2 separate regions of the Homo sapiens genome follow, and region 1 is linked to region 2. Evidence: fine-mapped expression QTL. A gene starts in region 2. The other region holds a variant in brackets. All regions are shown on one strand. Distances are between the middles of the regions.

The links. PIP is the estimated chance that this variant, and not a neighbour inherited with it, causes the effect. A credible set is the group of variants that fine-mapping cannot tell apart.
Region 1: its variant is the best candidate, but not a certain one, in a credible set for the expression of PRRC1 in breast (GTEx, PIP 0.79).

Annotation. Positions count from the first base shown.
Region 1 is chr5:127,546,414-127,551,798 of GRCh38, reverse strand. It overlaps PRRC1 (proline rich coiled-coil 1), which reads right to left. Exons shown (of 9, transcript NM_130809.5): 8 at 3,878-3,980; 9 at 1-92. Among named protein-coding and RNA genes, the nearest start is that of PRRC1, 31 kb to the right of the region's middle. The variant GTTC/C (reference allele first, on the strand shown) is at 2,334.
Region 2 is chr5:127,514,592-127,519,977 of GRCh38, reverse strand. PRRC1 (proline rich coiled-coil 1) reads right to left here and starts at 2,338. Exons shown (of 9, transcript NM_130809.5): 1 at 2,202-2,338. RefSeq lists an enhancer at 2,161-2,340 and a silencer at 2,401-2,470.

The DNA.
Region 1 (5,385 bases), 32 kb before region 2:
ACATTCAGTAAACTCTTTTCCAGGACTTCACCCACTGTCACCAAAAGGCCTGACCACCTCAGATTATAGTCCTGGGGAGTTAGACTTTGAGCCTGTGGAAAGATGAAATTGATATTACTTATAATACATTTAAAAATATCATTGGAACTAGCTATAAGTGACATTTCAAAGTGTTTCATGTTATTTTAAATATAGATTATGACAAACTCTGAGAAATACAGCTAGGCTGCCAACTATATCAACTTACAAGGCTAGAACACAATCAATGTAACATTACACACATCTATTTTTTAAAAAATATCCCCATTAACGAGGCTAACAGTCGGAAGGTTTGAGTTCTAGTTCTAAATTAAGTGTCACTTCAGGTTAATAATAAGATTGGTACTAAAATCAGTGCTAAAGTTATCTTTTATAGTAGTAAAATTTCAACCAGAAAGAGGAAAACTGAAAATTAAGGCTTAAATCCATTCAGAAAAGAATTGCTCAATTATGGAAATTCTCTCTGGAAATGTGATTCACATGTTAATATGTATCAAGTAATATCCAGTCCTGGACAACATCAACCACTGATGCAACATTCCTAATTGACCCAACTCATATTTGCTCCTATTCAAATCATTTATTCATCTACAAAGGAATGACAGAAGAATAAACTCATTGCTTGATATCCAAGACTGATGTGGTTTTTCTGTTTTAGGGTGTTAGGTATAGTCCAGAGAAGTATAGCCACATCTAGAACGGATCTATACAGTTATACATGACTACCAAATGTGCCATGTATTACAATCACCTGAGGAGCTCTTGTTTCTTTTTTCTTTTTTAACGATATCCAGTTTCTCACATCCCACTAAGATAACTGAGACACCAAGATAACTGAATTGGAAACTCTACAGCTGGTTCCAAGAGAAACAGTACAGTATTACGTACGTAAAATAGCTTCCAAGTCAATCTGATGCAAACAGTCCAGCACTTGGGAACCCCTGCTCTAAGTACTCTCTTCCAATGTGTATACTACAGTATCAGTATTTCACTATATTTCAAAGAGAAACAGCAGATATACTACTAACGTCCTCAGAGACACCAGTAACACTGTGCTTCTCAAATTATGGCATGCCTATGAATCCCCTGAATATCTTGTTAAAATGCAGCTCCTGATTCACTAGTCCTGTGTTAGGACCCGAGAATCTGCATTTTAACAAATTTCTAGGTGCTGCTTATGATGTTAAGCCAAGGACCACACTTTTTAGAAACAAGGTATTCTATATTATTGGCAAAAATCCAGAACAGCTGGGGTTTTTTATGGGGGTGAGGAATCATTTATATTTAAGTTTAACAAGTACAAATTGTATGAAATTTATTTCCAGATTTTTACTAATATATACTGATAATTCTAATTACCTGAAGGGCTGATTTCCATTACCTTAAATTAAAAAATTCCAACAATAAAAAAGCATAAAACATTTTAGAATGAATAAAAAGAAACAGGGAGGAGAGCTGAATAGCTGAGGATAAAAAGAAGACATTTCAATGCACACAGTTTTGTATCTTCTAAATTTTAAAACCAAATGACACAAAATAAAACAAACAGAATAAAAAGCAAAGTAAAAAGCAAATAACACCCTTTAAATACCATTATTCAGAATTAACCACTATTAACAGTTTGCTGTGTTATCTTTCCAGGCCTTTTTCCCTATTCTTATTAAAATTTTAAAGCACACACATACACACGCCTGCTAGTAAATGGGATCATACTAGATGTGCTGTTTTTGACTTTTACTCAGCAATATGTAATAGCTATCTTTTGGTACTGGTACACACGAGTCCACTTCATTCTTTCATGTCTACTTCTTTCCAGTATATATTCCTAAAAACAACATAAAAATTGTCCTTTGCAATGGTCAGATATCTAACACAGGGGTCAGCAAACTTTTTCTGAAAAGAGCCAGATGGTAAATATTTTAGGCTTTGTGGGCCAGACATTCTCTGTTGCAACTATTCATTTCTGCTGCTATAGTACAAAAGCAGCTATAAACAATAAGTAAGCAAACTGGCATGGGTGTGTTCCAATAAACTTAATTACAAAAAGATGACAGGCCAGATTTGGCTGTGAGCCACTGTTTGCTGACCCCAGATCTACAGCAATGTTAACAGTGGCAGTGACAGGAGCATCCTCATAATTATAACGTTTTCAGTGTTTTATTTATTAGATCTGAAGTTTGCTTTGATTTTGTAGTACACACATACCCGTCTAATACTAAGAGCTATTAGTATGATTATTTCTAGCAAATACCTTCAACTCTTATCAAAATCTTTTTTCTCCTTTCAATGCAGAT[GTTC/C]ATGTACTGAATTACATAAATTTACTATTGTTGAACCATTCTGCTGTTCTTGGGACAAATTTTTCATGGTCAGGATACAATGTTCATCTAATACATTTCTGAATTTTATTTATTAATTTTACCAATGGTTTTGACATTTAGTTCTTTGGACTATAATTTCATTTAAAGTTAAAAGAGGCTAGTCTCACAGAATGAACTGGAAAACTCTCTACCTCTATTTTTGATACCTCATACAGCAAATCATCTCTGAACATTTTGTAGAACTCACTTGTAACACCATTGGTACTCAGTGATTTTTTTTTTTTTAGTTACATAAAGTTCTTCCATTTTAATGCTTCAATTAAGCTGAATCATATGAAACTGACAATATATAACTATTTCTGACCATCAAAGGCAACAACGTCATTTGGTTCAACCTAATACTCTTAACTATGGCAAAACTTCTATTTTCCTAGAAAATCCACTCTTTCACCTAATTTTTCTAATTTATTGGCATAACAGTATGCATAGTATTCACTTACAGTCTTTTAATCACCTTCATATTGAAATGAGTGTAATGTTAATATCTATAAAAAGGTTTTCTTGAACTTATGAAAAGAAATTACGGTATAAATAAAAGTTTCAGTAAAATTTCAAATTCCAAGCATCAATTCTTAGCCCCCTTTCTAAACTGTAATAAGTAGGCCAGAGGTTACTTTTAGGGATTATGTGAACACATATGCCAAAGTTCTATGAAAGTACACATACACGCATTTTTCTTGGGAGACAGCCCAATAGTTTTCTTAGATTCTCAAATGTCTTCATGTCCCAAATAAGTTTGAAAGGCAGTTTTGAAATGATATTTAACAATGTACAAACTACAACTGTAACAAAAATTTTATGAAATTGACAGAAAAAAGTCAATAGAATACCACTTAAGAGCACAGAGATTCCAATGCAAGTATATATTTATATTCCATTTTGTTCATGAAAGGATTAGAGAAAACACACCAAAAAAAAAAAAAAAGAGGAATAAGGATTATCATTTATACTTACATTCTCCTGGAAACTGTGTGGATAGGTACACTATTAGGTCCATTTTTCAGCCAAAAACCTAAAGACACGTGCCTATAAGGTTTCTAATGTTGATTTCACTAAAGATGAACAGGAGGACAATCAATCAAGGAAAAGGGAAATGGAGATAACAGTGGAAATGAAATGTGAGATAAAAGGGAAAGCAAACGAAAGGCGGACATAAAACAACTAGAAAAGGTAAATCTTTTCCAGAACTCAGAGTAAAAACAAAGAAAAAAATGAGAGAAATAATGATTAACCATGTAATGTATTACCTTTCAAAGACACCTGGAAAACAAAAGGAGGAAGGTACTAAAACAACATGGAAGGATCAGGAAATTAAAAAGCAAAGAAAAATACTAAAAGAAAAATGACTGAAACAAAATCAAGAACATATTTCTAACAAAAAAACCGAACAAATTTTTATTCTGAAAACAATAGTGTAAGTTTCTCTGGAGCATAATGAAAAAGCAAAGGAGAAAACCAACCTGCTGTACAAATTCCAAAGGCACTGGTGTGGCTTGTGTAAATGTTTCTAGATGAATGCCATGGACAGGATCTTCAACCACCAAACAACCAATGTCAAACCATCTGCAACAGAATTACGAGTTTCAAATGGTTTATATGCCAAATAAAACTTATCATGAATAGACAAAAAGAAAAAACAAGTACTATTATTCAGATAGAACAGATTTCAAAAAGGAAATCTTTTTCTTACCAACTTGCAAAAGGACAATTCATAAAAACAACAGATAAAATTACTCTGTATTAATTCTAAGAGGAAAAAAGACAATAACCACAAAGAAAAAAAATTTAAAAATACTTATCATGGAAAGCTTCCTCTCCATGGGAAGGGAGAATAATCAAAGTAAGGGTACTCAAATATGCAACAGGTAAATTTACATACATTGAATATGCAAACAGCTTATGAGTAATATTTTTCAATTGTCACTTGCTAAAATATGGGAAATTTTATAATACAAACTCTATCATGAATATGTACTCAACTAAGTTACTAACAAATTAAAAAATAAGCTCAGAGGAAATAATAACAAATACTCTCTTCATTAATAATAAATCCTTCTAATCACAATTTCTGAATTATTCACAATGAGTCAGTCTTTGAAAACAGCCTCATGAAATCCAGGAAACTTCTCTTCATTTAAAGAGACTTATATATCATACAAAATGATAAATTTTAAAAATGACTTTATTGAAAACAACTGTAGTACCACCCAAATTTTAGCTAACCCAAATCATGAAACAGCCAGATACCCTCAAAAATGAATTTAAACAATAAAAGGATATGAAGCAGGAAAATGTTTAATGCCTATTTTTTAATGTAAATCTAATAAAATGCAATGAAATATAAAATGGATTAGGAGACTTTTATTTACACATTCAAAAAAACAACAAAGTAAAATATACAGTAACATAAATAACTTTGCTGAATACTAAAATGGCACTTTATAATGTCTATAGTGTTCATATCCTAAAACTTTAAAATTAAAAACATTAAATAATGACATTTATTTTATTTGGTAGACTAATAGATATTTTGTATTTTACTACAACTTTCTCAATCAAGATAATGTATTTGTGAAGCCTCCATAAAGTCGAGCTTAGCTAAATTTTATTTTGCCTTATTTTGCATAATTTGCAGACAATAATCTCTATGGTGAATAACATACTAACCAAGCTTTCAGGTGTGGACATCCTAAAAAGTGTTACTGAAGGTATGAGGAAAGTTTTTTCTATGATGCCAGTGAATATACCTTAGAACACCGACCTAGACTTGACTCAGCTCAGACTGTGACTGAAGTACACTACATTACCCTCCCCTTCCTCACACCCCTACAATTGTGTATATTATTATAGAGGAAAGGATGAACCTTCTCAAGATCACTTAAAGACTCTAGAGTTTTGTTTTCTAAACAATGGTTTTCAAAGATTACTATGCATTCAGAGAGACAGCACCATATATTCAAACCAAAAG
Region 2 (5,386 bases):
GGAAGGGAAAGGAGGCATGACTTGCACAACTAGATAGATGGTGGTGCCATGCACAAAGATAGGAAACACTGCAGAAGGCCAATGTGTTTGATGTTCTTTCTGGGGGAGTCGGATGGGGGAAATCATAAAATGTTTAGTCTTTGACATGCTGTTTAAGTTCCTTGAAACAAACATCTAAGTAGAGACACTGACTTGGTCTGGAGCTTAGCAACCACATAAATGTGGGTGTCATCAGTGTACTGATAGTCTAACGTCATGTTTTGAGATGAGATTACGTAAGAGAATACCAAGAGAAAAGAGAATATGATGTTAAACCAATTATTGGTTTAGTAAGATGGAAGACAAGTTTGCAGAGAATAAGAGATGAGCTAAAAGAAAGGAAGAAAACCAGGAGACTGTGGTGTCCAAAAGCCAGAGTTTCGCAGTATGAATGGGCAACAGTATTAATGCTGCAGAGAAGCCAAATAGGATACTATCTGAGAAGTTCAATGGATCTGCCAAACTGGAGATGAATTTAGGGAGAACGGTTTTCATATAAAGAGTGGAGAAAGATTCCAGTGTAAACTGAATCGAGCAGTGGCAGGTGAGACTAACACGCATGACACTTTCAAAAAGTTTGGCTGTGAACGTAGGAAAGATCTATGGCACTAAGCAGAGAACAGGGATCCGGGGAGGCTGAATCCTTTCATTCAGTACCTATACATCGAAGGTAAATAACCTGAGATAGAAATGCCCCTTTGGAGATTTTACCACTCCTCAACCAAAGCTCCCTCTTTTCTTCATTTAATTTTTTATTGGTCATTCACCCTCTACTACAGATGCTCCCCAATCCTTACAATGACTAGTAGAAGTCCTATTGTAAGAGAATCCCTAACATTAACAAATGTGTCTGCAAAAGAAACTGTACAATGAATACAAAGTCATTAAGTGGAATAAATAATCAATTTCTTTGTCTTTAATGGCTTTTTATATGAAAACTGCCGTAATGGCAATACTGAGGTAAATTTTACATGCATAAACATAGTGCCTTCTACTAAAAAAACCTATTATGATAAAACAATACTGAAGTGTCAGAGTTGGTAACTGTTTTAGGGCTCAAGTCTTGTCACGAAAAGTACTATTCATATATCAACACTAAAGAAAAAGTGAAGAAAATGGTTTGGAAAACTGAGTTCTCAGTCCGGCTAGACCCTGTTGTTCCAATTTGCTTGTGCCTTGGTTTTTCTGTTAAAAAAAAAAAAAAAAAGTGGATGTCTATTTACAAGTTTACAAGAAATGGAAGAGTGAAGCTCTGATAAACTTTAAAGCATTAAGAGCAATTATTGCTGACCTACTCGTGCCACAAGATTGTCTCTACTACCAAACAGTGAGCGCTAGTTAGAGCCTAATCTGACCCCGAAATAAAATTTTATAAATTTTCACTGAATTAAACACTGGCTGCACAGGAGAAAGACTGAATGCCAAGATGTGTCACGATCGCAGAAATGCACATGTTGTCTCTCAAAATAACTACTTCGAATGACAAAAACACTATTGGCTATAAATTCTGTCAATCTAGGAAACGTGCTATCTGCAAATTTGCCTGAAGCAGGTCCCAAGACCAAACAAAGAAACGAGAGAATGCAAAAACTCTCCCAAGCGGCGCTAAGCACCGATGGGGTAACCTCAGGGAAAATAAGCTTCCTTTCATTGCAGGTCCTGGTGTGATGACTCTCGAGCCTCCTGGGCCTCTCCAGGGCCAGAGCGGCCGAAATCCTGTTTCAGGAGACAGCGGCTTCCCCTCAGGCTCTGCCACGTCTCCAGGCCAGACAGGGCCGGGCTAAGGTCCGCCGGCGCTCCCGCCAGTCTCCCCTAAAGTCAGCGCCCTGGAAGGTGGGGCCAGAGCGCTCCTGCCTTGGTCCTTGGACAGGAGCAAAGTGTCGCGGGGCGAGACCCTCGAACCGCGCCCACCGTGCCATCCCCAGCGGAAACTGCTCACCTTGCGATGTGCACTCCTGCCTGCTGCACCCCGCACGCCGCCACAGCTGAGCCTGGACCACGGGACTAGGGGGCTCGCAAACGACATCGGCGTCCAGTGGCGCCGGCCGGCCCGCCCACCTTCCAGGGACACCGTCCCTCGGGGTCTGGCTCTGGCGCCTGCAAGCCATGCCATGCCATGCCACCCCCCTCATACACGCCCCTCGGAGCCACCTGGCGCTCACCTGGGGACCGGGAAAGTGCCTGCGTGGTCGCTGAAGAGTGTGGTATGATAGGGAGGTCGGGACGTAGAACTACAGCTTGGAGAAGACAACGAAGGCGCACCCTGGAAGTTACCTCGGCGTGTCCCCGCCTACAAGATGGCCACGGGCGGCGCATGCTCCTGCGGCTGCCACGTCGGCCGCGCGCCGCACCGCGCCGCGCGTCGCCGCCCCGCCCCGCTCCGCCCCGCATCGCATCGCCCCGCTCCGCCTCCGCATCGCCCCGCCCCCCCTGTCCCATGCGCTGTGAACCCGGCCGGGACGCTGCAAGTTAAACTTTGGAGCCAAGATCTTCCTAACTACCGAGACTTGGTTCTGCCCACACCCTCTAGAAACATCTTCCAAAGGGCTGGCCTCCTTTCTACTTCGCAGCCCCCTTACACGAGAGTGGCACTCTTGTTACCAGGCGTAGCTCACTCATCCTGTGCCACAGCGGCCCAAGGGATAAGATCAGTTAGCCAAGGTCATCTGGTTGGCGGTCATCTAGCCAACATCAGCTAGTCCAGTCAGCACCTCCAGGAAGGACCTCGCGGCAGATACAGGGGACTTAGCCTGTATAGTCAAAGATTTCCAGATAACAGTGATTATATCAGGAGAGAGGGATTAGGAGAAGAGGGAGAGGGGAGAAGAGTAGCAGTTACTGTACTGAATTTTTCCCCAAGTGCATGTATTGCACATTCTTTTTTTAATTGTAAAATAGACAGATTATCAACTTTCTTATTATATGCTGCACCTAACACAGTACCTGAAATAGTTGGTGTTCAATAATGTACATTAAATAAATTAATGGAGTGCGATAGAGGAAAATAAGGAACTTCAAATCAGAAGTCTTGATTTGAGTCTGAGACTACTCTAATGCCAGTTGTACAGTTGCCTGCCCTTGTACAGGTCACTTAGTCTCCATAAGTCTTCATATTTCTACCTGCAAACTGAGAATAATACTATCCACCATCCCTAAATCAGGCAGGTGACAGACTCAAATAAAATAGAGCATATGAAAATTTTTTAAACTTTTTGTCTTTTTGAGATGGTGTCTTGCCCTGTTGCCCAGGCTGGAGTGCAATGGCGCCATCTCGGCTCACTGCAACCTCTGCCTCCCGGGTTCAAACGATTCTCCTGCCTCAGCCTCCCGAGTAGCTGGGATTACAGGCACAGGCCACCACACCCAGCTAATTTTTGTACTTTTAGTAGAGACAGGGTTTCACCATTTTGGCCAGGCTGGTCTCGAACTCCTGACCTCGGCCCGCCTCGGCCTCCTAAAGTGCTGGGATTACAGGCGTGAGCCACCGCACCTGTCCGAAAACATTTTTTAAATTGCTTAGCATTAAATATATAAAAAATTGTTTTTGTTGTTCTCAATTTTTTTTCAGGAACTCACTTAGAGATTTCACATTAATCTATCTCTTGAGCTTCACAGTTGTAAGCATTCCAAAATACCTCACTGAAAAGTTAATACTATGTAGCAATACTCTGACTTCAGATCTCACTGTGCAACTACCATGGGCGGTTTTCTTTGGCGGTGGCTCCTATCCTCTAAGAATGTGTGTAGGTGGAGATCCAGGTTACTGTCCGGATCGTGCTGTTTGGGGTGGTGCTAAAGACAGATAACCATCTTCATCCTCTCTGATCAACACCCTTAATAGCTATAAGGTATGTTGGTTTCTCCATCCTTTCAGCAAATATTTATTAGTGGCTGCAATGTGCTGAGCATTGGTACTGGAAATGCAGTAACGAACAAGACAGACAAGGTCTTGATACCTAGGGAGCGTTCTTTATAATAGGAGAGAGGGTAGGAACAGGAAAATAAAGTAAGTACTGTTTGTGATGTGCAGTTTGAGGAGTCAACAAAGAGTGATGTAATATTGACAGTAATTGGAGTAGACCACTTCAGATAGGATGAATGGGCAAGGCTTCTCTGAATAGGTGAGATGTGAGCAGAGACGTGTAATGCAGCAGGCCTGTGCTTATCCGGACAGAAAGAAGGGCATGCAAAGACTTAAGGATGGAGTGTGCTCGGCATGTGCGCAGACAACAGGGAAGCAGGACTGTGAGAATGGTAAAGAAGACAGGACAGGGAGTGGGGCCAGATCGTGTCTAGCCTTGTAGGTCATGGGAAAGCCTTTGATTACACTCTGAGAGAAATGAGAAGCACGTGGAGGGTTTTGAGCAGAGAACTGACAATATTTGATATCAATTTCTGATCACACTCTGATTGCTGTGTGACTGCAGTCCATGTGAGGATGAGTGCAGGATGACCAGTAATGAGATGATGATGGCTTAGTGTCCCTAATGGAGGTGGAGGTGGCACACGGTCTGGATGTATTTTGAAGATGGAGCTGTCATGATTTACTGATGGGTTGGGAGTAAGCTGCATTAGTTTCCTAAGATTATCATAACAAATTACTGCAACTAATGTTTTCGTTGGCTAAAAACAACAGAAATTGATTCCTTCACAGTTCTGGGGGCTAGATGTCCAAAATCAAGGTGTCAGCAGGGCCTCTCCAAAGGCTCGAGTGGAGAATCCTTCCTTGCCCCTTCTAGCTTCTGGTGGCTCCAGGTGTTCTTTGGCCTGTGCCAGCATACCTCCAATCTCTGCCTCTGTGCCAGCACACCTCCAATCTCTGCCTCTGTCTCCACATGGCCTTCCCCCCCATGTCTCTGTGTCTCAAATCTCCTTCTGCCTTTCTCTTATAAGCATACTTCCTTATAAGTGCATACTCATTCCGCTAAGGCCCCACCCTAAATCCAGAATGATATCATCTCAATATATTTGTAGGTCTTATGAAGATCCTGTTTCCAAATAAGTTCACAGTAACAAGTTCCAGGTGGGCATATCTTTTTTGGGGGGTGGGCACTATTCAACCCACTACATGGACAATGAGGTAAGATGAGCTTTGAAGTTAACCTTGATTTACATTTACTATATTTTATGTTTTACTTACCACTTTTCATTTGAACTTCAAAAGAACTATGTGTGGCAGGTATTATTATTCCAGTATTAGAAACGTGGAAACTAAGGCTATGAAAATGGTGCATAGAGCTGGAGATGGAACCTAGAATCCTTAGGCTGTACCTCAACTGCTTGCCTGCTTTGTGGGTGGTAAGGTGAGAAGATTTCTTCTTAGATGGCAGACAATGAAGGGAGTCAA